Regions from separate parts of the Homo sapiens genome. Here region 2 is linked to region 1. The links come from fine-mapping of genetic effects on gene expression. A gene starts in region 1. The other region holds a variant in brackets. All regions are shown on one strand. Distances are between the middles of the regions. Region 1 holds the start of PADI2 (peptidyl arginine deiminase 2). Region 2 overlaps PADI2 (peptidyl arginine deiminase 2).

What was found. PIP is the estimated chance that this variant, and not a neighbour inherited with it, causes the effect.
Region 2: its variant is fine-mapped to the expression of PADI2 in whole blood (INTERVAL, PIP 0.92).

What each region holds. Positions count from the first base shown.
Region 1 is chr1:17,113,299-17,125,558 of GRCh38, forward strand. It overlaps PADI2 (peptidyl arginine deiminase 2), which reads right to left and starts at 6,153. Exons shown (of 16, transcript NM_007365.3): 1 at 5,982-6,153. The coding sequence starts at 6,073. It overlaps LOC124903861 (a long non-coding RNA gene), which reads left to right. Exons shown (of 3, transcript XR_007065506.1): 2 at 128-287; 3 at 373-547. RefSeq lists silencers at 5,963-6,172, 8,695-8,878 and an enhancer at 6,744-7,278.
Region 2 is chr1:17,092,166-17,104,425 of GRCh38, forward strand. It overlaps PADI2 (peptidyl arginine deiminase 2), which reads right to left. Exons shown (of 16, transcript NM_007365.3): 3 at 10,822-10,894; 4 at 3,744-3,805; 5 at 1,402-1,519; 6 at 243-368. Among named protein-coding and RNA genes, the nearest start is that of PADI2, 21 kb to the right of the region's middle. The variant T/C (reference allele first, on the strand shown) is at 5,642.

The sequences.
Region 1 (12,260 bases):
CTAGACCACCAGGGAACTGAGTATTCATTATGTCTCAGGCACTGTACCAAGCCCATGGCCCACATGACCTCAGCCCATTCTTTCGATAACCCCATGAGGCCCATACCACTGTGATTTCATTTTACAGATGAGCACATTGAGGCCCCTAGAGGGCAAGCACCCGCTTCAAATCTCAGGGACAGTCATGGCCGAGTGTGAGGGGAACTCAGGCTCTCTGAGACCTGGGCCTGGCTGTCCCCTCCCTGGGAGAGAATTCAAAGTCTGGAGTCTTTCCTGAGATCCCCCAGGTAGGTGTGCCTGGTGTGGGGCAGAGGGGAGGATCAGGCCTGGCTCTGAAGAGGACCAAATGAGAGCCCCTTACTTATTTCACAGGTGGGAGTCTGAGACACAGAGAAGGGACACTAAAGACTGGCTTCCTGTCCTGGGCTCTTGGGTCAATGACAGAGAGAAGCAAGCCTGGGCCCATCAAAGCCTCTGGGTGCAAGGTCTGGCGTGGCTGGGCAGGAAAGAGCTGCCTTCAAAAGCTGCCTCCTCCAAAGTGCAGCAGGTATGTCTGGCCAGCTAGGGGTGGGCACTGGGGTGAGCCCCTGCCACTGTGCTCCCATCCCAACTCAGGGCCCTGCAGTCAATGAGGGAAGGTCTCAGGGACCCCAACTATGCAGGGACTGTGAGCCTGGTTCTCCTTAGAACACTCCCAACCCCAGGAAACTAGCCTGAAACCAGAGCCCTGGAGCAATTCCTGGCAAGGCATCCCGTTTGGGGTTGAGGGCTCTGGGTGCTGTTCTAATTTATGGGCCACCTGACCTGGCCTGAATTCCTCCCACCGTCATTCTCTCAGGAGCAAGCGCTGCTCGGGCCAAGCTTGGCCACATGCCCTTGACCTTCCACAGGCCCATCCAACGGTGCCTGTCCCTTGAGGCTGGGGGTGGGGAGCTCAGCCCCATGACAGGCCAGTCCACAGGCATCACAGGCCACATTCATTCATTCATTCGTTCATTCATTCATTCATTCAGGGAGCCCTTCATTGACTCCAGGGAGGATCACAAACAAGGAGGAGGCACGCCTGAAACATAAGTACCAGGAGGGCAGCCTGGCAGAGCAGGCAGGGGCCTGGGCTCTGCACCCCACAGTTTACTGGCTGTGCCATCCTGGACAAACACTCCTTCCTTCAGTTTCCCCAGCTGCGAAAAGGGGACAATAATTGTACCTAACTCATAAAGTTGTTGCAAGGTTTAAATACGTAAATTATTACATGTCCGTGAGATGAGCATGCAAAGTGTTGAGAAGCCTGCACAAAATAAGTGTTCAATAAATGTCAACTAGTAACATTAAGAAACGATGAGAAGTTGTGCAAAGAAAAAAATGTGATGAAACAGAGTTCTCGGGACTCAGGGTAGGGCACCACGACATGGGGTAGTCAAAGAAAGCTTCCTGGAGGAGGTGACATTGGAGCTGAGACTTGACTGATGAAAGTCAGGCTTGTGGGGATCTGGGGGATGGTGTTCCAGGCAGAGGGAACAGCAACTGCAAAGGCCCTGAGGTGGGAATGAGCTTGGCACAGCCAAGGGCTAACAGCATCCACAAAGCCAGCGTGGCCGGAATGGAGTGTGTGCTGAGGAATTGCTAGAAGAGGAGATCAGTGAGGTAGGGCCTGGCACACTATGGGGAGGGGAGCCCATAGCACCCCAGGCCCCCATCATGGAAAACTGGATCTCAGACCCTCCTGGCCTTTGTCCTAATGACACTTTTTAAAAAAGCAAATACATCTCTAGCCTTCACACCAACCAAGAGACAGAAAGTCTGGGAGTGAGTTTGTGCCAAAGTCTAGGAGCGCCTGCCTGATACCTTCTTCCTATCTTCTGCCAGCGAGTTATGGGCAAATTATTACTATTTACTTGATATTACTAGCTGACATTTATCTTCTTTCTGTCTTCTACTGGGACAATGGCTGGTCAGCCTCTGCCTTGGGGAATCCCAGGGAAGGGAATCCTCCCACCTCCACCTCACAGACGCAGCTGGAACCTCTGCACAGGCAAAGGGACAATGTTAAGATCATTCCAGTGTCCTGAAGCTCCTGCAGACCTCAGGATCTGGATCCTGGCTCCTGTACACCAGGGAGGAAAAGAAGAGCCCTGCCTTCTCGAGAACTCTCACTGACAGAGGCATAAGCCGAGGGAGGAACAGAAGAAGCCATTCCCAAGGCCCAGCTTGTGGGCAGAGAGTGACCACCCTGCTACCTACTTTACTCCGAGGCTGCCCTGTCCCTAATAATCCTTCCAGACTCTGGGAGTGTCCATGCCTCCAGGGCTCACAAGAGGTGGGTGGCCAGGATGGAACCAACCTAGGGACTCCCTCTGTGCTCTCTTTCCAACTTCAAGCCCAAATCAGATGGGGACCCAGGCCAGCCCCACTGAAGAAGTGACTGTCGGCTAAAGGGACCACCGGAGGAGATTGTGTGGGCCAGGTGTACCTGTGCCAAGACTAAGATGAGTATATTTGGGAAGAGCAGAAGGAAACAGCGAGTATCTTTAACAACAATCACAAAGTACAATTTCTAACAAACACCCTACTTCCTTCTTTCTATGTATCTATTCATTGCTTGCTGGAGACTAGCAGTCAGAATGAGGCTAGGTCAAGGCATCCATCCCCAGGGGGGCCAGTTTTGCTGGGAGAGCGTGGGTGGCCCAGAGCACCCCTGCCCATGGTGGCCTGGATGACCCCTCATAGGGCAGCATAGTGGTCAATTGTTCATCACTGTGACCCTGAGTGTACATCTTCTATTGAATACAAGATCCTTCCTCCTGTTCTCTGATCGACCCCCATTTGGGTCAGTGGAGACTCAGAGAAGTGAAGCGATTTGCTCAAGGTCACACAGCCCGTGGATGGAAGCTGGTAGGGCAGTGCCTGCCAGGACCACAAGGTCTATTGAGGAATGAGGCTGGGGAGGCCCCTGCTATGTGTCTGGAGGGGATCCTGTGTGCCAGCATCACAGGAAAGGGAGTCCAGAGCCCTTGGGAAAGGGAGTGGGTGCTGAGGCCGTTTCGCTCACCTTTGCGACTCAGAAGGAGTGAGGGTCAGGATGCCACTCCGTAATTAACTGGGCCCAGCACCCCCGGGCCTTGTTCCTTGGGGTCTACTTGGAGGCTCTGGGGGCATCACTTGGGGTCTTGAGCCAGGACCTGTGTCCGGGCAGCAAAGGACTCAGGGAAGAGTGGAGGGCCAAATGGGAGTTGGTGAAGTCTCTGGGGACAGTGGGCTCGTGGCCAGGGTGGAAGAGACACAGGCTGAGAGGGCCGTCCAGTTCAACCCGCTGGTTTTAGGGTCACATAGGACAGAGTGGGGTATAAGAGCATGAGTTCTGAGTCAAACAGACCTGGACCTGAGTCCTGTGTGACTCTGGACAAATGGCTTCATCTCTCTGAGCCTTACCTTCCTCATCTGTAAAATGGGATGATCAATGAACCCTCCAGGGTCTATGGTGAGGAAGAAAGGAGGTGGTGGGTTCAGTTCCTAAGTGCCCACTAATACCTCCTCCTGTTATCAATACTGGCAGTTGCTCTCATTACTACAGGTAACTCGAGTCACAATAGCAGTAACAACTCAAGCTCCTTAGTCCTGGAAGAGGCTTCCTTCCACTGGACCAGTGAGTCTCAGCTGGCTGTGATTTTGCCCCCTGCCAGGGGACTGCTGGCACTGTCTGGCAACATTTTTGGTTGTCACAATTTGGGGGTTGCTACTGGCATCTAGGGGACAGAGGTCAGGGATGCCACTAAACATCCCGCTACAACAAAGAAATATCGAGCCCAAAATGCAATAGTGCGAGATTGAGAAACTCTGCACTAGACCTGTTCTGTCCCGGTGTCACTGGCTCACGGTGGCCAGTGAGCACCTGAGATGCACTCAATCTACGCTGAGATGTGCTGAAGTGTAAAATGTGCACTGGATTACAAAGACTTAGCATGAAAAAAGGAAGGTAAACCATTTCCTTAATAATTTTTATATTGATTGCATGTTGAAATGATAATATTCTAAAATATTGGGTTAAACAAAATATATTATTAAAATTATGCCTGTTGTTTTAACTTTAAAAAAGTGTGGACTACTAGAAGATTTAAAATGCAATTGTGGTTTTGTTGTGGTTCAAACTGGACTTTTCTGGACAGTACTGGTCTAGAGCGCACTGCCCCTCTCTGTGGTGGTGGAGAACCTTAAGTGCCGGTGGGGGTTAGGGTCTTTGTGGTCGTTGAGACAGGACAAGGGGAATCGTCACACTGCTGCCCCCTGCTAGAGGGAGGCTGAGTCCATATCTGCCCCACTCTGTGCCCCTACCCCAGCTGGGCCTCTCTTTGCCAGGATAGAGCGATAGCAGGGCGCCTGAGCAGGAACCCTCCTTTGCTCCCCACCCCCGACTGGGAGGATCATGCCAGCTTTTCAGGCGGCACCAACCATGCCCCAGCAAATAAACAGGTGGGTATGGTGACAGCTGAGGCTTAGAGACCTGAGCACTCTGGCTCCGCGCCCACTCCCTAGCGGTGCCCAGTTCAGGGCTGGGGGTGGGGAAGGCAGGGGAGCTCTTGCACCCCACCAGAGCCTGGACCACCCTCCACTGCTGTGTTCTTGTTCTCAGAGACCACCCAGTCCACCTCTGAGGTTTACATGGGGGACAACTGAAGCCCAGGCCCAGGGGAAGGCAGAGGTTGAGGCCAGGGACAGAGGCATGGAGTGGGTCCCTAGTCCTGGGGCTTGTTGGTATCAGCGTGGCCAGTGCCTCTGCAGCGGTGGCAGGAGACTGGTTGGGCAGGTGGGAGGGCTGCCAGGGCTGTGTGGGGAGACACATGATGGGTTGGTGGGGGCCTGGGAGAGGCAGGGTGCTCCAGGTGTCAGGATGATTTGAGAGCCATAAACCACGATGGTGCCTCCGTGTGAGTTCAGCTTGAGGCAGAGAGGATAGGGGACTCATCCGGTGTCAGCACAGGGTCCCACCTCAGAGTCCTGCATGCTCCCTGCCCCCAGCACTGACCCCTCCAACCCTAGCAATGGGGAGGTTTTAAATGCTTGGAATAGAGGGGGCAGATCAAACCCCAGCATAACCCCACCCTTTCATTCACACCAGCCACACCTTTCCAAGGCCCCGTCCCATTACTCAGGGAGACAGATCATTGGACTTGGCTGCTTTCTGGGATTGCGGGGGGAGTGGTAGGGCCCTACCCTACCTTCAGCTGTCTCGGACATCCCGCACTCTACCAAGTTCTTGGACAGAGAGAAGGGGAGGGAGCAGAACTCTGAATCAGGATCCTTTTCCAACAAAGTACCCCGCTATACACCCCAAGTCCCCGTCGTCAGCTGGGTAGAATATTGTCCCTCTGTGGTCTCAGAATGAAGTCAGGGGAAGGTATCTGGGGACACGGAGCTCAGGGCCAGTGCCTGGGGACAAGCAACCACCAGCAGCCCCCACAGGGCGAAATCGGAGCCTGAGTAACCTCCAGGGCCGGATTCAGCCTCAGGGCAGCTCCCTTCGGGTCCTGCCCCAGTCCCCGGCAAGTCTCCGCGGAAGCTCCGCTGAACTGGGAGTGGGAAGCAGGAGAGGGGCTGGGTTGAGGTGGGTCCGAGGGGAAGTGAGGTGCGGAGGGGAAGTGAAAGGGGAGAGGACGGCAGGGAAGCTGAAGGGGTGTGAGGTCCCCCGGGAGGAGAACTGGAGAGGGCCAGACGGAGGGTTACGGGTGAAAGGGAGGGTCTGTGAGGGAGCTGGGGCTGAGGCTGTGTTAGGGGGTCTGGGAGAGTCTCAGGGTTTCTGGAAGGTGGACACAAGGTTCGGGGGTTGTCAGGTTTCTGGATGAGATTCTTAGGATTTCTGGGCTCGGGGGCTCGGGATGAGGGACAACTCGGGCTGGACAAAGGCTGTCCACGTCCCCGAGTCTGAGCGCGTCTCAGGATTTCTGGGCTCGAGATCTCGGCCCGGGCATCACGGTGGGCCGGCTCACCTGTAGACATCGGTCCAGAGGTAGGTGCCCAGCACGTACACCGCCTCCACGCGGCTCCCGTACTGCAGCCGCACGGTCCGCTCGCGCAGCATCCTCCCCGCCGCAGTGCCCGCGCTCGCTGGTCCGGGGCGGCCGGGAGCACCTGCAGCAGGTGCGCCTTCTCCAGCAGCCTGCGCCCCACGGCCCCGCGCGCAGCCTTATCCAGCGGCCGGTGGGCGGGGCGGCCCGCCCCAGTCCTCTCGCAGTGGGCTGCGGGCCTGTCCGTCAAGCGTGGTCCCGCCCCTAACTCGTCCCGCCCCGCTGAGGTCGTGGCGAAGTCATCAGGGACCAGTTTTGTGCTTTCCATGGTTGGATTGTCATTCTTTCATTCGACAAACCTTCGGTGGGCGCCCAGGTGTTGGAGGGCCCTAGCTCCCCTCCGGACGCCCCAGCCCAGTGGGGCTGAAAATGCAAATGTGGGAACACAAAGAGGGTGCCCTAACCCAGCCTGGGGGCCAGGAAGCCTTCCCAGAGAAGACGATCCTGGAACCTTCTTAAAGGAGGCGTTTGCAAATTAAAGGCGAGGAGAGGGAGCTGCCTGTGCAAAGCCGGGTGCAGCCCGGTACCCCCATCCCCCAACAGTCAGATGAACCTCACCATAGAGAAAACGGGAAGCGGTGGGGATGGGGAACCCGGCAGCTGAGGGAGACCAGGACGCCAAGCCAAGGCATTGGAGGGTGGGAGATGGGAGCCTGGAGTGGTTGTCTCCGCGAGCCGTGGTCGGGTGTGCTCGTGAAATGGGTCATTCTGGGCTGGGGAGGGGCAAGGAAGCCCCTGGCTGTGGCCAGAGCTGGAGAGGTGGGGACTGACCCGGCCACTGCTTAGGGACTGGGATTTTGGTGGCACCTGGTGACTGATAGGATGTGTGGGTGGAGGGAGAGGAGAGGGGTAAGGATTAGGGCCCCGGTTCTGGCCTGGGCCACCAAGGGAAGGGGGGTGCCACCCAGAGGTCATCGTGTGTCTCACAGAGGCTGAGATGTAGGATGACAATCAGTGTGGGCCTCGGCCAGCCCCTCCCATGTCCCAGCCCTTCCCCTGGGACCCAGTGGGAGTGCTGTTCAGACACATACATCAGCCCTGTGTGAGGAAGTGGTCTTTGGTAGGTGAGGACAGAAACTGAGGGGGGGTGGGCAGAGGCCGTGGGAGGGAAGGAGTGGGGCGGAGGGGATGTGTGTTTGGGAAGGAGTTAGAGCTGATGGAAGATGGAGCTCCAGGAACGGGTGCCCCCAGACAAGAGGGGTGAGGCCCACAAGTGCCCAGTGCTGATATACCCAGCCCTTGGACTCCAACCTTCTCCCTGAGGCGGCCCAAATTAGGAGGTGGTGAAGAGCCCAGCTGCTTCTGAGTGGCAGGGATTTGGGAGGAATGTGAGTGGGGAAGAGGGAAGGCCCGAGTTTTAGCCAGGAGGTCATTTGTCCCCCAAAGGCACAGCTCACAGACCCAGGGAGAGGCCAGTAACTGTTTTTTTTTTTTTTTTTTGAGACAGAGTTTTCCTCTTGTTACCCAGGCTGGAGTACAATGGCGCCATCTCAGCTCATTGCAACCTCCGCCTCCCAGGTTTAATTGATTCTCCTGCCTCAGCCTCCCAAGTAGCTGGGATTACAGGCAGGCACCACCACACCCAGCTAATTTTGTATTTTTAGTAGAGACGGGGTTTCTCCATGTTGGCCAGGCTGGTTTTGAACTCCTGATCTCAGGTGATCTACCTGCCTCGGCCTCCCAAAGTGCTAGGATTACAGGCGTGAGCCACAGCGCCCGGCCGAGGCCAGTAACTTCTGATGAACTCCAGGCACCCGGCTGAGCACATCCTCCAATCAGGAGGAATCTCTCGGGTGGCCACCTGCCAAACTGGGACAAAACTTGTGTAGCTTGGAGAGACTTCGAGGCGCCCCCAGAGGTGAGCTCGTGTCTGGGCACCCCTCTGCCACGAGTGACTTTGGAGCCCTTACTGTGTGACAGATAACGGGCACCCACCAGGGTTCTCACCTTCCTGGGGCTCTAACTTTCATTTGACTCATGGGGAGACTGGGGCCAGAGTGGGGGAGGACACTGTACCCCCCACTGACGGAGACCCCGGGCAGCTCATAACAGGACACTGGGCAAGATAGTGATAACATCAGACCGCAATACCCAGGGGAGCTGGAGTAAGAGCGGGCACTTACTGCTTTCTTTCTGTGGGTCAGGCACTGTTCCAAGCGGCTCTTTTCATGTATTAGAGTTAGATCACTGAACCCTCCCAGTAACTCCGCCACTTTACAGATGAAGAAAGTGAGCTGTGAGGAGGTGGGGGAATTGACTCTGGGTTGCAGAGCTCCTAAGAGTGGCAGAGGGAGGAGCTTGCAGGGCCACTGGGGTGGAGGCAGGGGGCAAGGCCGAGTGAGGGCAGGGGCAGAATGCTGTCCATGCTTTGTAGATAAGGAAGTCGCAGTTCTAGGCCCAGCTCTGCTTTTGTGCCGCCTTGGGCCAGGTACCCTGCCATTCGGAGCCCCATTTTCTGCCTCTGTGAAGTAACTGATCCCTCAGCACGGTGTAAGGACGGTATTAAACGAGACAACAAGGTGCAGAAAATACTAGCACAGAGCCTGGCACAAGGCTCAAGAAATGAAGCCCCCTCCCCTTAAAAACCCAATTCAGACCTGGCCACCCACACTCAGGACTCCTGCCCGGGCTCAGGCCATCATGTTGGGCCCAGAGCCTGGTTGATGAGACAGGAGTTTCCTGGTGCCCAGAGGTTTAAAATAGCTGAAGTAGTCACAGCTGTTGGTGGATTCAGGGCCGGAGGTCGCATGCATCACGGCTGCTCCCACCTCTCCCCTGGGATCCGGAAGAGCCACAAAGCATCTCACGGTGTCTTTTGGGGACTTAGCTTAGGCCAGTTCCTGGCACAGACCCGCACCCACCCCTCCAGCAAGCGCCCCTGCCAAGCCTGTGGGCAGGGTGCCTGGGCTAAGAGGGGCTCTTCTGAGCTGTTTTCTGTTAGGTTCCTCCACTGGGTGTGGGGTCTCCGGGCCAGGCCTTGGGGGAACCAGGGAGGCCACTCAAACTTCGACAAGCCTGCTTTGAGGAAACAGACAGCTTACTGAGAGCACTATACATACAATAATTTAAAAAGAAAGAAAAAAATGCACAAGTATTACCTGGTCATTGTGGAAAAGTTAAAAAAAATATGATCACCCATGACCCTAGTACCAGAGATCAGTCTGAATCTATGAGTATGATCTGGCCGGGCTGCCCACAGGCTGCTGTGGGGCAGCACACTTCCTGAGCCCTTGCGCCATGCCAGGAGCTGTTCAGAGCCCATTCACACACACATCTCAGCCTGTTTAATCCTCACGACAGCCCTGTGAGGTGAGAGCTATTATTATCTTCCATCTGCACAGAGGCACCAACCAGCCTGCAGTGAAGAGCATGGACTTTGGTCTTGGTGGACCTGGGGTCAAGTCTGGCTCTGCCCCTCACTAGCTGGGGGCCTCTCTGGGCCTCAGTTTCTTCTTCTATAAAGGAGATACTAGGAATTGTTATAAGGAACAAGGAATAACAAGATGATATCCAGTAAGGTACTGCACATCGTGGCCTGGCACAGACCCAAGTTCCAGTAGACGGTAGTTATTTCCTATGCGTATATAGTTATTTTAAGTTTTTGTAAACATGGGCTTCTGACTACATGCTGTTTGATAACATACTTCAAAGCTTCCACAATGTGAGAGGCTGGGCTGGCTGTGGCCAGGTCACACAGAGCATTGTAAGTCGTGGAAAAGGCTTTGGGGCTTTATCTTTATGGGGTCATGGGGGAAGCCTGGGAAGGACTTTGGAAGGTGTCAACGGCACGATGTACACTTTAGGAAAATCACTCTGGCTGCTGTAGGCAGCTAAATTTGACAGGAATTCTGGCAGGAGACCAGAGAAAGGAAGAGGTCGGGGTCTGGGCCATGGATCCCCAAAGCAATCCTTCTGTGGCCAGGGATCGCCCCAACCCCTGACTCTGCACCATGGGGACCTGCAGTCATACCCTCAAGAGCAGATCCCCATAACCCTGGCCCTGCCTGGCCCCGTCACATTCCCTTTCCCCTGGCAAAGCCCACCCTTTGGTCTCACTCCCTTGAGAAGAGTCTCTGGGATGGGGGCGTTGATTCAGCCTCTGCCTCAGCTCTCGGTCCTGAGAGACATCGTGCTCAGAGGCGGGGAAGGGCTGGGGTGCTCCATTGTTCTAATACTGCGTGAGTTCAGAATGAGGAAGTCATGTCTCTTCTGCGTGCTGCTGTGGCTGTACCCCACTCGGGGGTACATTTATATATGCAGAGAGAGAGATTTATTTTAAGAAATTGGCTCACATGGTTGTGGGGGCTGACAAGCCTGAAATTTGTAGAGCTGGCCAGTCAGAAATGGGAGAAGAATTGATGTTGCGGTCTTGAGTCTGAAATCTACAGGTTGGAAACAGCACGGTTTCTATGTTGCATTCTGGAGGCTGAATTGCCTCCTCTTTGGGAAACCTCAGTCTTTGTTGTTAAGGCCTTCAACTGATTGGATGAGGCCCACCCACATTTTGGAGTGCAATCTACTTTACTCAAAGTCTACTGATTTAAACGTTGATCACATCTGAAAAATATCTTCACAGCAACATCCAGACTGATGTTTGACTGGATGATGGGGTGCCATAGCCTGGCCAAATCGACACAGAAAATTAACCATCACCATGCTGAAAGATGGGCTAAGGCTTTCATTCATTAGGTCACCATTTATGGAGCATTTATTCCCTGCCAGGCACCTGCGCTAAGCACTGTGTGTATGTTATCCCATTGAATCCTTGCTACAACCCCAGAAGTAAGTATTTTTCTTACCCTTATTTTATACATCCAAGGGTAAGATGACTTGTCCGGGCCAGGGTTCTACCCTTAGTCAGTGAAGCAAAGCTAGAAAGGTGAATTCTGGAGAAGATGTAATAAGCCAGTTGTCTGAGGGGCTGCCAGGGGGCCAGAGTAAGCCTGGGAGGTCCTAGACCCATGCTTTCCAACATGTAGCCACTGCCAGACAAGGTTTATGTGGCTAATCTGAACTGACACATGCTGTAGGTGTAAAACAGTGGTCCCCAACCTTTTTGGCACCAGGGACCTGTTTTGTGGAAGACAGGCTTTCCATGGATGGGGGTGGGGATGGTTTCGGGATGATTCAAGCGCATTACATTTCTTGTGCACTTTATTTCTATCATCACATTGTAATACATAAGGAAACAATTTTACAATTCACCGTAATGTAGAATCAGTGGGGGCCCTGAGCTTGTTTTCCTGCAACTAGATGGTCCCATCTGGGGGTGATGGGAGACAGTGACAGGTCATCAGGCATTAGATTCTCATCAGGAGCTCACAGCCTAGATCTCTCACCTGCGCAGTTCACAATAGCATTTGTGCTCCTATGGGAATCTAAAGACAAAACTTCCCTTGCTAGCCCAATGCTCACCTCCTGCGGTGTGCCTGGTTCCCAACAGACCACAGACTGGTAATGGTCCATAGCCTGGGGGTTGGGGACCCCTGGTGTAAAATACAGATTTCAAGGAGTTACAAGGAGAAAAAGATGGTAATTTTAAAAATAATTGACTCCATGTTGGAATGATAATATGGTGAATGTATTTCATTAAATGCAAATGTATTATTAGCTGGATGTGGTGGCTCAAGCCTGTAATCCCAACACTTTGGGAGGCTGAGGAGGGAGGATCACTAACATTCAGGAGTTTGAGATGAGCCTGGGCAACATAGCAAGACCCTGTCTCTACAAAAAAATTTAAAAATTAGCCAGGCATGGTGATGCACCCCCTGTACTCCCAGCTACTTGGGAGGCCAAGGTTGGGGGAATCTCTTGAGCCCACGAGGTTGAGGCTGCAAGTGAGCAGTGACCGTGCCACTGCATGCCAGCTGGGGCGACAGAGCAAGACTCTGTCTCAAACAAACAAACATCAAAAAGCCCAAAGACGTATTGTTAAAGTTAATTGTACCTATTTATTTCAGCTTTTAAAAATGTGGCTACTAGAAAATGTGGTTACCTGTGAGGCACACATTTGTGGTTGCCATCATTTTTATTTTTCTTTCTTCCTTTTTTTTTTTTTTTTTTTTGAGACAGAGTCTTGCCCTGTCACCCAGGCTGGAATGCAGTGGCATGAGCTTTTCTCACTGCAACCTCCGCCTCCTGGGTTTAAGTGATTCTCATGCCTCAGCCTCTGGAGTAGCTGGGACCACAGGCACGCGCCAC
Region 2 (12,260 bases), 21 kb before region 1:
GGGAGGAAGGGCCTCTGGGTTCTACATAGACCCATGTCACTCCAGACTCCTTTGAGAGGAGGAGCGATGTGTCCCCATGGAGTCTTTCAACTTCACGGGACAACAGCATTGCCATGTTACAATCACTCAGAGACCAATCCAGGTCTTCCCCAGGCACCTGCACCTGTGAAGGCCACAACTGCTAAGGGGAGGAGGGTAGGTGGCTAGAAAGGTCTAGGCTGGACTGGGCTGGGATCACTCACTCTCCACGTAGAACACGCCCACTTTGTCTGAGTCTGACATGGAAATGTACAGAACTATCTCGTATCCGGCGGGGAGGCGGTCGGGGCCTTTGGTCCGCAGGATCATCTGGGACATGTCCTTGAGATCTGAGGGACAGAAGGTGAGAATGAAGAGATCTATCTGTTGCTGGAGCCTCAGCTTCCCAATGCCTTTTACTTTGATAATCAGGAAAAAATCCCCATGGATGTGTATTATGGAAACTATAGAAAAGCATAAAGAGGCTGGGTGCTGTGGCTCACACCTGTAATCCCAGTGCTTTGGGAGGTTGAGGTGGGTGGATCACTTAAGGCCAGGAGACAAACACCAGCCTGAGCAACATAGCAAGACCCCATCTTTACAAAAATAAAAAAAATTAGCCACGCATGGTGGCATGTGCCTGTAATCCTGGCTACTCAGGAGGCTGAGGCAGGAGGATGGCTTGAACCCAGGGGGTTGAGGCTGTAGTGAGCTATGATCATGCCACTGCACTCCAGCTTGGGCAATAGAACAAGGCCTTGTCTCAAAAAAAAAAAAAAAGAAAAAAAAAGAAAAAGAAAAAAGCAAAGCATAAAACAGAATAAAAACCAGTTGTCATTTCCAACACTAGAGATGATTAACCTTTTGGGAATTTCCTTCTGGTCTATTTTCTTTTTATTCTTCTTCTTCTTCTTCTTCTTTTTTTTTCTTGAGACAGAGTCTTGCTCTGTTGCCCAGGCTGGAGTGCAGTGGCATGATCTTGGCTCACTGCAATCTCTGCCTCCTGGGTTCAAGTGATTCTCCTGCCTCAGCCTCCTGAGTAGTTGGGATTACAGGTGCATGCCACCACGCTCAGCCAATTTTTGTATTTTTAGTAGAGATGGGGTTTCACCATATTGGTTAGGCTGGTCTTGAACTCCTCACCTCATGATCTGCCTGCCTTGGCCTCCCAAAATGCTAGGATTACAGGTGTGAGCCACCACGCCCGGCCCTTGTCTATTTCCTATGGTTTTGCCTTTGGCTTTAAGCAAGAGTGGGAATTTGTGTCCACCATCCCCAGGAGGCCTGAGTCCACACCTGCCTCACCCTCAGCCCAGCCCAGGACTGGGCATGAATCTTTTCACTCCTCTCATCCTGCCCCCCAAGTGCAGGGCCTGCTGGCACCTTCCTTGCTGTAGACCTTCTCATCACGGCAGTCCTCCTTGGGCAACCAGGGTGTCTCTCGGTCACAGTTCACCAGCAGGATGGCCCCCTGGCCCTCGGGGCCCCAGGTCCAGGATGCCTACAGTGGCAGGAAGAAAGGTCAGTGCCCTCTTCTCTATGCTTGTATAGACCCCATGGGACACTGGAGAGATAGCCCCAGGATGAGGGTAAAGAGTAGCCGCCACCCACTGGGGCAGCTGTGACCTGGCAAATGTGAATCTCAAGACTGATGTCCACAGAGGATGAATGTGGGCATCAAAGGCAAGTTCAATAGAGGCACAGAGACAGGAAGGCTGACTGAGGCATTTATGGGCCTCCTGTCTGGTGCAGCTGGTGTCTGGTGTGGGTGGAGGCAGGGAGGTGGAGGCTGGCCAGAGAAATGAGCAGACAGACATTCTACCATGGGTCCCTAGGTCCCTAGGGGAGCTCAGGAGGAGACGCCTGGATGGATGCCACCCAGCTGTTTCCAGACACGCTCCTAGTGCTCCGAATGGGACCTGCATGGTGCTCCACTTTCTACACTGCAGCCATAGCACTACTAGAACAAACTCGGGCCAGATTGTGTTGCTTCCCTGCTTTAAGCCAGGTCAGGGGCTCCCAGTTGAGTTGGCATGAAGCCCTGATTCCTTGCTGTGGCTTGGAAGGCCTGGTGAAACTTGCCTTCCTCTCTGTCTCATCTCCTCCGCCTTGCCCCTCGCTCACTCTGCCCCACCCATCCCGGCGCCTTTCTGCTCCCAAAAGACTCAAGCTCCCAGGCCTTTGCCTATGCCAGTCCCTCTGCTCCTGTCCTGCCCCTTTCCACCTGGCCCACTCTACCCTTCCTCGGTTACAGCATGACTGTCTCTTCTTCCTGGAGGCCTTTCTGATTCTCTAGGACAGAGCAGCTTCCCCGGGTCCACACCTGGCCCTGTACACATCCTTTTTGGGAGGACTTAGGACAACTGTGATGACACAGCTATCCGAAACACTCCATATTTAATGTGGACCATGGGCTCCTTAAGGCCAGGGCTGTGTTTCTCTTGTTCTTTCTGTGTCCCCTGGGCCTGACCCGCTCCTGGAACATAAAAGATGCTCAGCAAATATTTATGGGATGAGTGAAGAAAATGTGAAAACTTCACCGGCCCAGATTTAAAAATTCTGGCCAAGTTCAGGCTCATGGGGATCGTGTGACTTTCCCAAGACTGCCCAGCCCCTTGGGGGAGGTTGGAAGCTGTCGCCCTGGGGCTGCTGGGTTTCAGAGGCCTCTGTGGAGTTCATTCTCATATGGCTTGGCCATAGACTCAGAGAATGAGTGTGCAGGGCTGGCCCTGGTCTCAGGCAAGCCTTGCTCACGATCCTAGAAGAAGGGACTTCCCCACATGGCTGAGAACCCTCTCCTGACCTGCAGAGAGTCAGGGTAGCAGGCTGCTAGGACCCAGGCTTCTCATCAGGCTGTGTTTATTTTACTTCGTAAGTACCCCTCTATGTATACTTTACTCTAGGCTTCAGAGTGTTATTATAAAAGTCACATATGCCCATGGCAAAAATTGAGATAATACAGAAGGGCAGAAAATGGAAAGCAGTTAGAAGCAACAGCCTGAATGTACACAGAGCAAGACTGATGGAGCCTAAAAACTAGGTTGAGGGAAAAGTACAAAACAGAATGTGATGGAGAACACCATGCCGTCTGCACAAATTAAAAATACATGCACACCAACCACACCACATGCCTCCTGAGAGTCACCAGAGCAGAAAGAGACACATTAAACCCAGCAAAATGGTCCTCTGTGGGGGAGCAGAATGGGAGTGGGGAATGCAAGATAAAAGAAAATAAGTAAATGAACGAGGGAACAAATGAATGAATGGTGAATGAATGCAAGAATAAATAGAAAGAGGAGAGGGGCCGTGCATGCACCAGCAGAGATAATACCACGCCTGGAACTGAGAATGATGAATGCGACCCTCTGTCCTGAGGGTCTGTCTCCCCCACCTCCCTAGTCTTAAAAGAACAGGCAAAATAATAAGAGCAAATGCCTTCACAGTGCTTCCTCTGTAGCGGGCACATTTATCCTTCCCAGCAGTTCCATGAATTGGGCGTCCCCATCATGGGATGGAGAAACTGAGACTCAGGAGCCTGCTCTGTTGCCGTCTCTAGGAGATGCCTGAGCTCCTCTGTGGGTTCCATCATTGGTATGCTGTGTGTCTGGGAGCCTGTCTTGGGCTTTAGTCTCCTGAGCTGTGAAATGGGAATTGCCTGCGGGATCTGGGGCTGTGCCCTCGGAAGCCCTGGGTTCAGGGTGGTGCCTGCCCTGAAAGCTAGGTACCTTCTTTGGGTTGTTCTTCTCCACCACACCATCCCGGTCTGCGTCCACATCCAGGGAGATCTCTGGGGAGAAGAGACATGGGTGAGTTGCTGAGCCTGCCAGGCAGGGCAGGGCAGGGGCAAGAGGAAGACCTGTGGGATTTGGGTGCGTCTCAGCCATTCATTTGGTCACGGGAAAGAGAGGACCTCGCTGAAGTCATCTTATGCAACCCCCTGCCTCAACATCCCACTACCCACTGGAGACCGTCAGCAGACACCGTGTGGACCTCGTAGCTTACGGCTGCAAGAGCTGCCATCGGGGAGGTCTGGGACCTCCTACCACTTCATTGTTCTGGCTGGGGGTTGGGGAATGATCCTCGCTGCACAGATCTGGATGCCTCAGTTCAGAGGTGAAGTCGCATGCCCAAGATCACATAGGGACGCTAGCAGAACTGGGGTACACAGTGCGGTTGGTCTGATTCATAGTTCATATTCTGAAAACTTAACAGGGATAGCATTCCCAAACTGCCTTTCTCAGTCTACCCGGGCATGCGCATAGGTGTGCACATGTGCACCTGGGTGTGCGTGTCTCTTTCTCTCCCAGAACTTCCAGTGGGCTAGATCCCACCTTCAAGGACTGAGGGTTTTACTGTGGGTGGGAAGCTGTCTCTAACCCCTCTTGGTCTGAGGTCACCTGTGAGTCTAGATGGAGGATCCAGGGCCAGGCCCCCACTTATCCCTTCTCTTGGTGAAGGGACCCTCAGCATCCCTAGGCCTGCCATGGAGACAGGCTTTGTGGAGACTGTAGGGAAGTGAAAAGGTTTAGTATCAGACAAGGTGGGGTTTAGACCCTGGTTCTCTGCTTATAAGCTGTGTGACTTTGGGCAGGTTAGAGGACCTCTCTGAGCCCCAGTTTCCTCACTTGTAACATGGGGCCCTTCCTGGTTACAGCAGATGCATTAGCTGCAATGGAAGGCACTACTGACATTTTTGAGCCAAATAACTCTTTGTGTGGGGGCAGCCTGTGCATTGTAGGATGTTTAACAGCACTCCTGGCTTCTACCTACCAGATGCCAGTAACATCCCTCCCAGTCGTGACAGCCAAAAATGTCTCCAGATATTGTCAAATGTCCCTTGGGAGGCGAAATTGCCTTGAGTTGGAGACGGATGAGGTCGAGTAGGGATGTGGTTGGGAAGGTGTTGGGAGTGTCACACACATGACATGTGCCCGTTCCAGGTCCCCAGAGCTGCCCGAGTGGGCTCATCTCACGCTGAGCATGACTTGGACCTGGTGGGCGCTGGGTGGTAATGAATGCATTCCTGGTTAGTCCCCGTGGCAGGCACACCCTCTGCCTGGAGGGCATGGAAAGGAGGGTCCTGGCACACGAAGTGCACTGATGTCACCCTTCTCTGGGCCAACCAAGCCCAGAGTCCAGAGATCACATTCAGGTCCTCCCTTTGCCTATAGCCTGCATACCCTAGACCTGCATGTGACTTTTCCAGTCTAGAAGGAGGCTGCAAGGGCGCCTGGCCCTTGAGAGAGGCAGTCTTGTGTGTCCCAGCCTCTGCAGCTGTGCGGTGAGTTAGGTGCTGTAAGGCATAATTTGTAACCTCCTCCCTCCGATCGCATTCACTCCACATTTCACTGCTGAGGAGCTACTGCTCCGGGAGCTGTACCAGGCAACGGGCAATGGAGGCACAGCACCTGCTCTCAAGGCGTCCACAGTCCCATGAGATGAATAGCATTGCTCTCGTTTCACAGGGCAGCAAACCCAGGTTCAGAGAAGCCACTTGTCAGCAAATCGGGCTGGTAATCTGGGAGGCTGGTGCAGGATAAGGACCCCAGGGGAAAGAAGGGAAGGCGGTACCACCAGGGGCTAAGAGCCTGGGGTGCAGGGGCAGGAATAATACTGGTTTTGG[T/C]TCCTGGACCTTTGTGAACTTTCCAGCCGGTCACGTCCACTGAATGCTGCCTTTCAGGGAGCTGGCTTCCTGAAACTCCTCCCTCGGAAGGAGCCGCAGGTCCAGCCTCTTTAGGGAGCCACTCTGTCCTTTTCAAGGTAAAAATTTCTCCCCTGCGGGCATCCTGCTCTGCAGCTGCACAGCGTTTTCCAAGGTGTGTTCTCTCGGCCACTCCAGGGGAGGCGTGACCACCCCCACCCCCTAACGATACAGATGAGGAAACCCAGGCCCGCAGCAGGGAAGTGACCACCGAAGTTCCCAGAACGCAGAGCCAGGCTCTCAGCAGGGCCTCGGACTCCGGCTGCCTGCTCTCTGCTGTTCCCTGCAATGAACCCAGGCTGACCTCCCTGCAAGCTGTTTCCAAAAGCCCAGCCCAAAGTCAAAGACACAAGACTTGCTCCCTTGAAGGTCATTCCCAGAGGAAGTGCCCATTTCCCCACCTTGGTAGCCCTGCGGCCTTCGTCTCTAGGCCGTAAGGTGACATTACATTGGGACTCCTTGTGGCGAGTCCATTAAAGCAGTGGGGCCGTGGGCTAGGAGAGAAATTATGGTGCAGTCTATACTGCTTCATTTCATTATGAATTCTTAAATGGAAACATTTTATTCATGTAATATTTGGACATAGTACAAACAAAATCAAATAAAATAGTAACACACTGTTTCTAAAGAAAGACAGCAGTTCCTTGTCCAGCCCTTCTTCTCAGCTGCCTAAGGCAACCTCTCTCATGCTTATTGCGATTTCCTGATTTACTGAATTCAGACAGGTTTCGTTACCTTCCTGTTACGAAATGTGGGCATTTCACAGTGTGGCTCCCTTATCGTCCTCCCAGCCTCTCACAGGGCTTCATAACTCCTCTCTGATGACCCATGACCTGTCCCCATAATCCACTGAAATGACCTTCTGGCCCCTTCACCCTCAGAGACCGCCCACCCTGTAGTCATGCCCATGGGACTTCGCCCCTGCAAGGCTTCCCCCAATGTCTGATTTAACTAGATTCCAGTGGGATGCTGCGGGTAGGGGCAGAGAACAGGGCTGGTGTGACCTGCCCAGAGCATTGCCTCTTGGGATGGCTCTGCCTTCCCGAGGGGGAGGAGGGAGAGGAGCTCTGCTTCAGGGCCTCCAGGCTCCAGACGACATTTCCCAGAGGCTCTGGATCCCACCTCAGTTCCCCAGAATAGCCCCAAGGCGTCAGGTGGCTCCTGGGTGTGGGGCAGATTGACGGGAAATGTCCCTAGGATTGGGTTCAAGGCAGTCTGCCCTGAGAATGAAGACACTGAAGCCTCAGCTCTGACCGAGAGGCACAAGCATTTTGGAGGGTCGCCAGAGAGTGGCAGGGTGCCTGGCCTTCTTGCCTTACTAAGCAGCTTGAGATGTTATGGGAAGGAAGGACACCCTCCCCCACAGCCAATCAGGGCAAGTATCCCAGCCTCTGGGGAGAAGGCATAGGATCAAGCCCCTTAGGTTGATGTTAAAATTTTCTGGGGCCCGCATATGTGTACTCCTTCCACTGCCAGGACCTCAAATAGGGTGGGATTCTTCCTCCCTCCCCACACCTCACCTCTTGCTCTCCCCCATCCCTCCCAAAAAATGGAAGTCTTTGCAAATCAACCCTAACCAGGGTCTTGAAGGTCCTTAGGGATTAATTAGCTCAAACCCCTTATTTTATAGTTTGTAAAAAGTGAGTCCTAGTGGGGGTGGTTACTTGTTAAGGTCACACAGCAAGTCCTTGGCGGGATTGGGACAAAGACCCAGAGCCTGATCTGGCCAAAGGAATCATGAATTTGCTCCCAAATCCCAGAAGGAAGAAGGAGAGACCATACATTTCTTTAACTTCACCCAGGCAGAGAGAAAATGCGGCCACCTCAAGAGCAAGAGAGAAAAGCAGGCGGAGCATTGACTAAGCACCCACTCTGTGCCGGGCCCTTCGCACACAACATCCCACTGAATCCTTGTAAACACCATGCAAGGCTGCTCTGTGAAGCGCATTTTATAGATGAGGAAGCCAAGGCTCAGGGGGATGATGTGACTTGTCACAAGCTGGCTGGAGGGGACAGAGAAAGATCTTAGGCTTACTTCTGTCTACCCAGAAGCCAAGGCTCTTTCTGCTCAATGTGGACTCAGGATAGGACCAGGGTGAGAGAGATTCAGATACATTTTTGTGCCCAGGGGACAGTCCCAGCCTCTCAAGATATTGGGGTTGGGGGGGGGCTTGCCTCTGAGGCGCTGCCCCTGAGTGATTGATTACTCAGGATGACGGGCTCAAGGGCTCCTGGGGCAGATGCTCGAGAAAAGAGAAAACCTAGAAGGGACAGAGAGAACAGTGGTCCCCAAGGGAAACCAGATTTTCACCAGGGTCTCTGTTGGAACAGGAAACAGAAGTTCAATGGTGTTAGTTTCTTTTTGCAATTGAATGACTGTCTCTTATTCTGTTTTTTGTTTTGTTTTGTGTTATTTTTGAGACAGAGTCTCATTCTGTCGCCGAGGCTGGAGTGCAGTGGCACTGTGTCAGCTCACTGCAACCTCTGTCTCCTGGTTTCAAGCAATTCTCCTGCCTCAGCCTCCTGAGTAGCTGGGATTACAGGCGTCCACCACCATGCCCGGCTAGTTTTTATATTTTTAGTAGAGACAGGGTTTCACCATGTTGGCCAGGCTGGTCTTGAACTCCTGACCTCAGGTGATCCGCCCACCTCGGCCTCCCAAAGTGCTGGGATTACAGGCGTGAGCCACTGTGCCCGGCCATGACTGTCTTTTATTCTGAGATTATGCCTTGCCTATTTTTTAAGAGTTAAAATGATAGTGATAGTTGATAGCAAATTTTTTTTTTTTTTTTTTTGAGACAAAGTCTCGCTCTGTCGCCCAGGCTGGAGGGCAGTGGCACCATCTTGGCTCACTGCAACCTCCACCTCTTGGGTTCAAGCAATTCTCCTGCCTCAGCCTCCTGAGTAGCTGGGACTACAGGTGCGTGCCACCACGCCCAGTTAATTTTTGTATTTTTAGTAGAGATGTGGTTTCGCCACATTGGCCAGGCTGGTCTCAAACTCCTGACCTCATGATCTGCCCACCTTGGCCTCCCAAAGTGTTGGGATTACAGGCGTGAGACACCGCGCCTGGCCACAAATTGTTTTATTGATGTATTTTTTTTTCTTTTTTTTGCCAAGCATCAAAGTTGTTAGTGTTCTCATTTTTTGGGGGGTGGGGGCAGGGGACATTTGATTGGCCCATGGAATCTAAATATCTGGAACTTGTGGCAGTTAAATAAATAATTATTAACAGACCTCGGAAGGATGAACTTGGTCACTTGTCGTGGGCACATGTGGCATCTTTTGGGACTCAGCCATGCCGCCAACTCTGAGCGGGCTTCCTCTAAGCACAGCTTTGTCATCTCCTAGTGAGGAGGAAAAGTCCAGTCCTGCCTCCTTATAGACGCTTATTTTGCCATCTATCCTAAGTCTGTCTTGCTTTGGTGGAAGTCTTGTTAATGGTGCAGTCAGCCTTCTGGGATCATCCTCATTTGACAGGTGTCAGGCCCCTGCCCTTCCTGCCCCCGTCCTCAGGTGTCCCTATCTTGGTGGGATTAGGTTTCCTCAGGGACTGTCATCTGAGACTGCCTGGATGCTGTGTGCATGCAAGGTTCACACACGTGCCAGGGCTCAGTACAACCCAGGAGTCTTTGTTGATCATCTGCCACCCTCACCAAGGTCATCCCGAGGTTCCCTACCCCAGGGCTGGGCACCTCCTTGGGACAGAAAGAGGGACAGGGGGACCAGCAACCAAGCCCATTTGGGAATTAGCCAAGAATGAGAAGGGCCCTGCTGCTAAGCCTGTTTAAGCAGCTGAGAGCACAGGGCTAGAGAGGAAGGGGCTGGCTCGGGAGTTAGTTGTATCTTGGGGAGATTCTGAGACCCCCCCTGAGAATGTGGGATAACTGGAATGATTGGCATCTCACCAACCATTTTCTGGAGATGTAGCTGCAGGCAAGTATTTGTTTTACCTTTTCTGAGCCTTGATTTTCTCATCTATAAAATGAGGATGATAATAATAATATCTATCCTTGGAATAGTTGGAAGAAGAGATTGAAATCGTGACGGTAAAACATTGAGTACTGGAGCCTGGCACACCATAGGTGCTCAATTAATATCAGGTGTTTACCATTCTCCCCCTCCTCCTCCTCATCAAAGTGCCCAGTGCAGCTCTAGACACACAGTAGGCCTGCAATAAGCAGGCCGCATCATTATTTTGAAAGCACTCAGCATGCAGTTGACTCTCAATAACTGGTAGTTCCCTTCCTCTGCCATGCGGCAACTCTGTCAATGTTAAACCAAGGTTGGATGAACAAAATGACCCTCTGAAATGTCCTCTTGGCTTTAACATTCTATGATTAAAAAATGAAATAAAATAGCATAAAAGTAATGCCTCAGTTTCAGGGGGTGGAGTGATGGAAAATTCAGATGATCACAGCCAAGGGTCCTGTAGAGCCAGGCTAGGCTCCACCTCCCTGGCATGCAGGCCTGGCACCCAGCGCAGGGCAGTGTGATGCAATGGAGAGAACCTGAGACAGGGATAATTCTGGGTTCTGGACTCAACTTGCCACCCAGTTGCTGTGTGATGTTGAATAAATTCCCTAACCTCTCTGGGCCTCACCATCCTGTGGATCAAATGAAGGACTTGGACTAGGTGAGTTAAGGACCTGGAGGCTGCATCTCTGCACCCTCGGGGCTGAATCTGGGGAGAACCAGGGGGCAGCTGGGATTGTCAAGAACAGCTGCTAGTTTTATAGACTGTGGCCATTCCCCTCACCATGAGAGGGACACTCTTCTCCAGGCTGCAGGGGAGAGGCAGGGGGAAACACACTTCACCTTTTTCTCTTTTAGGGCCACAGAGCCTGGGAAGGGGACCTTGACACTTGGGGGGGGGTTGCTGATGGATCAGGGAGTGCCTCTTCCTGCAGATAAGCCCCCACCCCAGTATGGAAGGACCGGGGTGGGGCACATGTGACATCCCTCCCCAGGCCTGTGCCATTCAGAAGAAGCTCCAAGTGCCAGGTCAGCCGCACTGAGAACCGCCTAAGTGCCCCAGAGAAGGACAACAGTGCCAGGCCCTGGGTGATGAAGGCACTGAGACGGCAACCATGCCAACTCACCAATGGCTGTGAGGAAGAGCCCCGCCTGGTCGATGGGAATGCTCCCTTCCTCGTCATAGTAGTTGACGGTGACCTTGGTGGGGAGGGGGCACATTGGAGTAGAGAGAAAAGAGAGCAGAGATCACAGATCACAAGCAGGAAAACCTGAAGCAACTGCTGTCCCTCACAGCTTGTCAAGCCAACCCTCTCCAAACATCAGAACCCTCTCCTCCAGGAAGAACTCCTGGGTTGGTGGGCGGTTTCCCTCAGGTAACTGAACTAGACTGTGGACTCCCCTCCTGCTGGCTGAGAGGGCAGTTAGGATGCTGTCTGCCTTCCTGTGCCACTGTGTGCATTCTGCTGCCTGGGGTCCCCCATATCTGCCATGTTGCACGTCTAGTGCCCACTGAGGGGACAGGGCTGAGGCTATTTTCTTTGGACCATGTTCAATGCCATCACTGTGATGGGGCACATGGTAAAGTTCATAATTACGGAACCCAGAAAGGAGACAGTTCTGGTCTCAGCCTCACCACTTAGGCAAATCACCCATGGATGTTCAGCACCCCATTTTACAGATAGACCAAGGACACTTGTGACTGTAAGCTCCAATGATTCTATGGTTCTGAGCCTCTAAACTTTCTATCACTCAGCTGTCTATAATTTTCATCCTTTACGAAGCCATCGTTCCATGGTCTAACCCCACAACATCCACATGGCTACCGAGCACTGGAAATGCGGCTATTCTGAACGGAGGTGTGTTATAAGGTGTAAAACTCACACTAATTTTAAATTTGGTATGGAAAAAGAATATAAACTACCAGCCTGGGCAATATAGTAAGACCTGTCTCTAAAAAAAAAAAAAAAAAAAATTAGCTGGGCACGATGGCAGGTGCCTGGAGTCCCAGCTACTCGGGAGGCTGGGGCAGGAGGACTGCTTGAACCCAGTAGCTTGAGGTTGCAGTGAGCTATGATCGCACCACTGCACTCCAGCCTGGGAGTCAGAGTGAGATCCTGTCTCTTAAAAACAAACAAACAGGCCGGCCGCGGTGGCTCACGCCTGTAATCCCAGCACTTTGGGAGGCCAAGGTGGGCGGATCACAAGGTCAGGAGATCGACAGCATCCTGGCTAACACGGTGAAACCCCATCTCTACTAAAAATACAAAAAAAAAAAAAAATTAGCTAGGCATAGGGCAGGCGTCTGTAGTCCCAGCTACTCTGGAGGCTGAGGCAGGAGAATGGTGTGAACCTGGGAGGTGGAGCTTGCAGTGAGCCGAGATCGCATCACTGCACTCCAGCCTGGGTGACAGAGGGAGACTCCGTCTCAAACAAACAAACAAACAAAAAACAAACAATTTTGTTAATATTTTTTATATTGATAGCATGTCAAAATGATAATATTTTGATAGATAGGGTTAAGTAATAGATATTAAGACAATTAATTTCACCTGTTTCTTTTTGC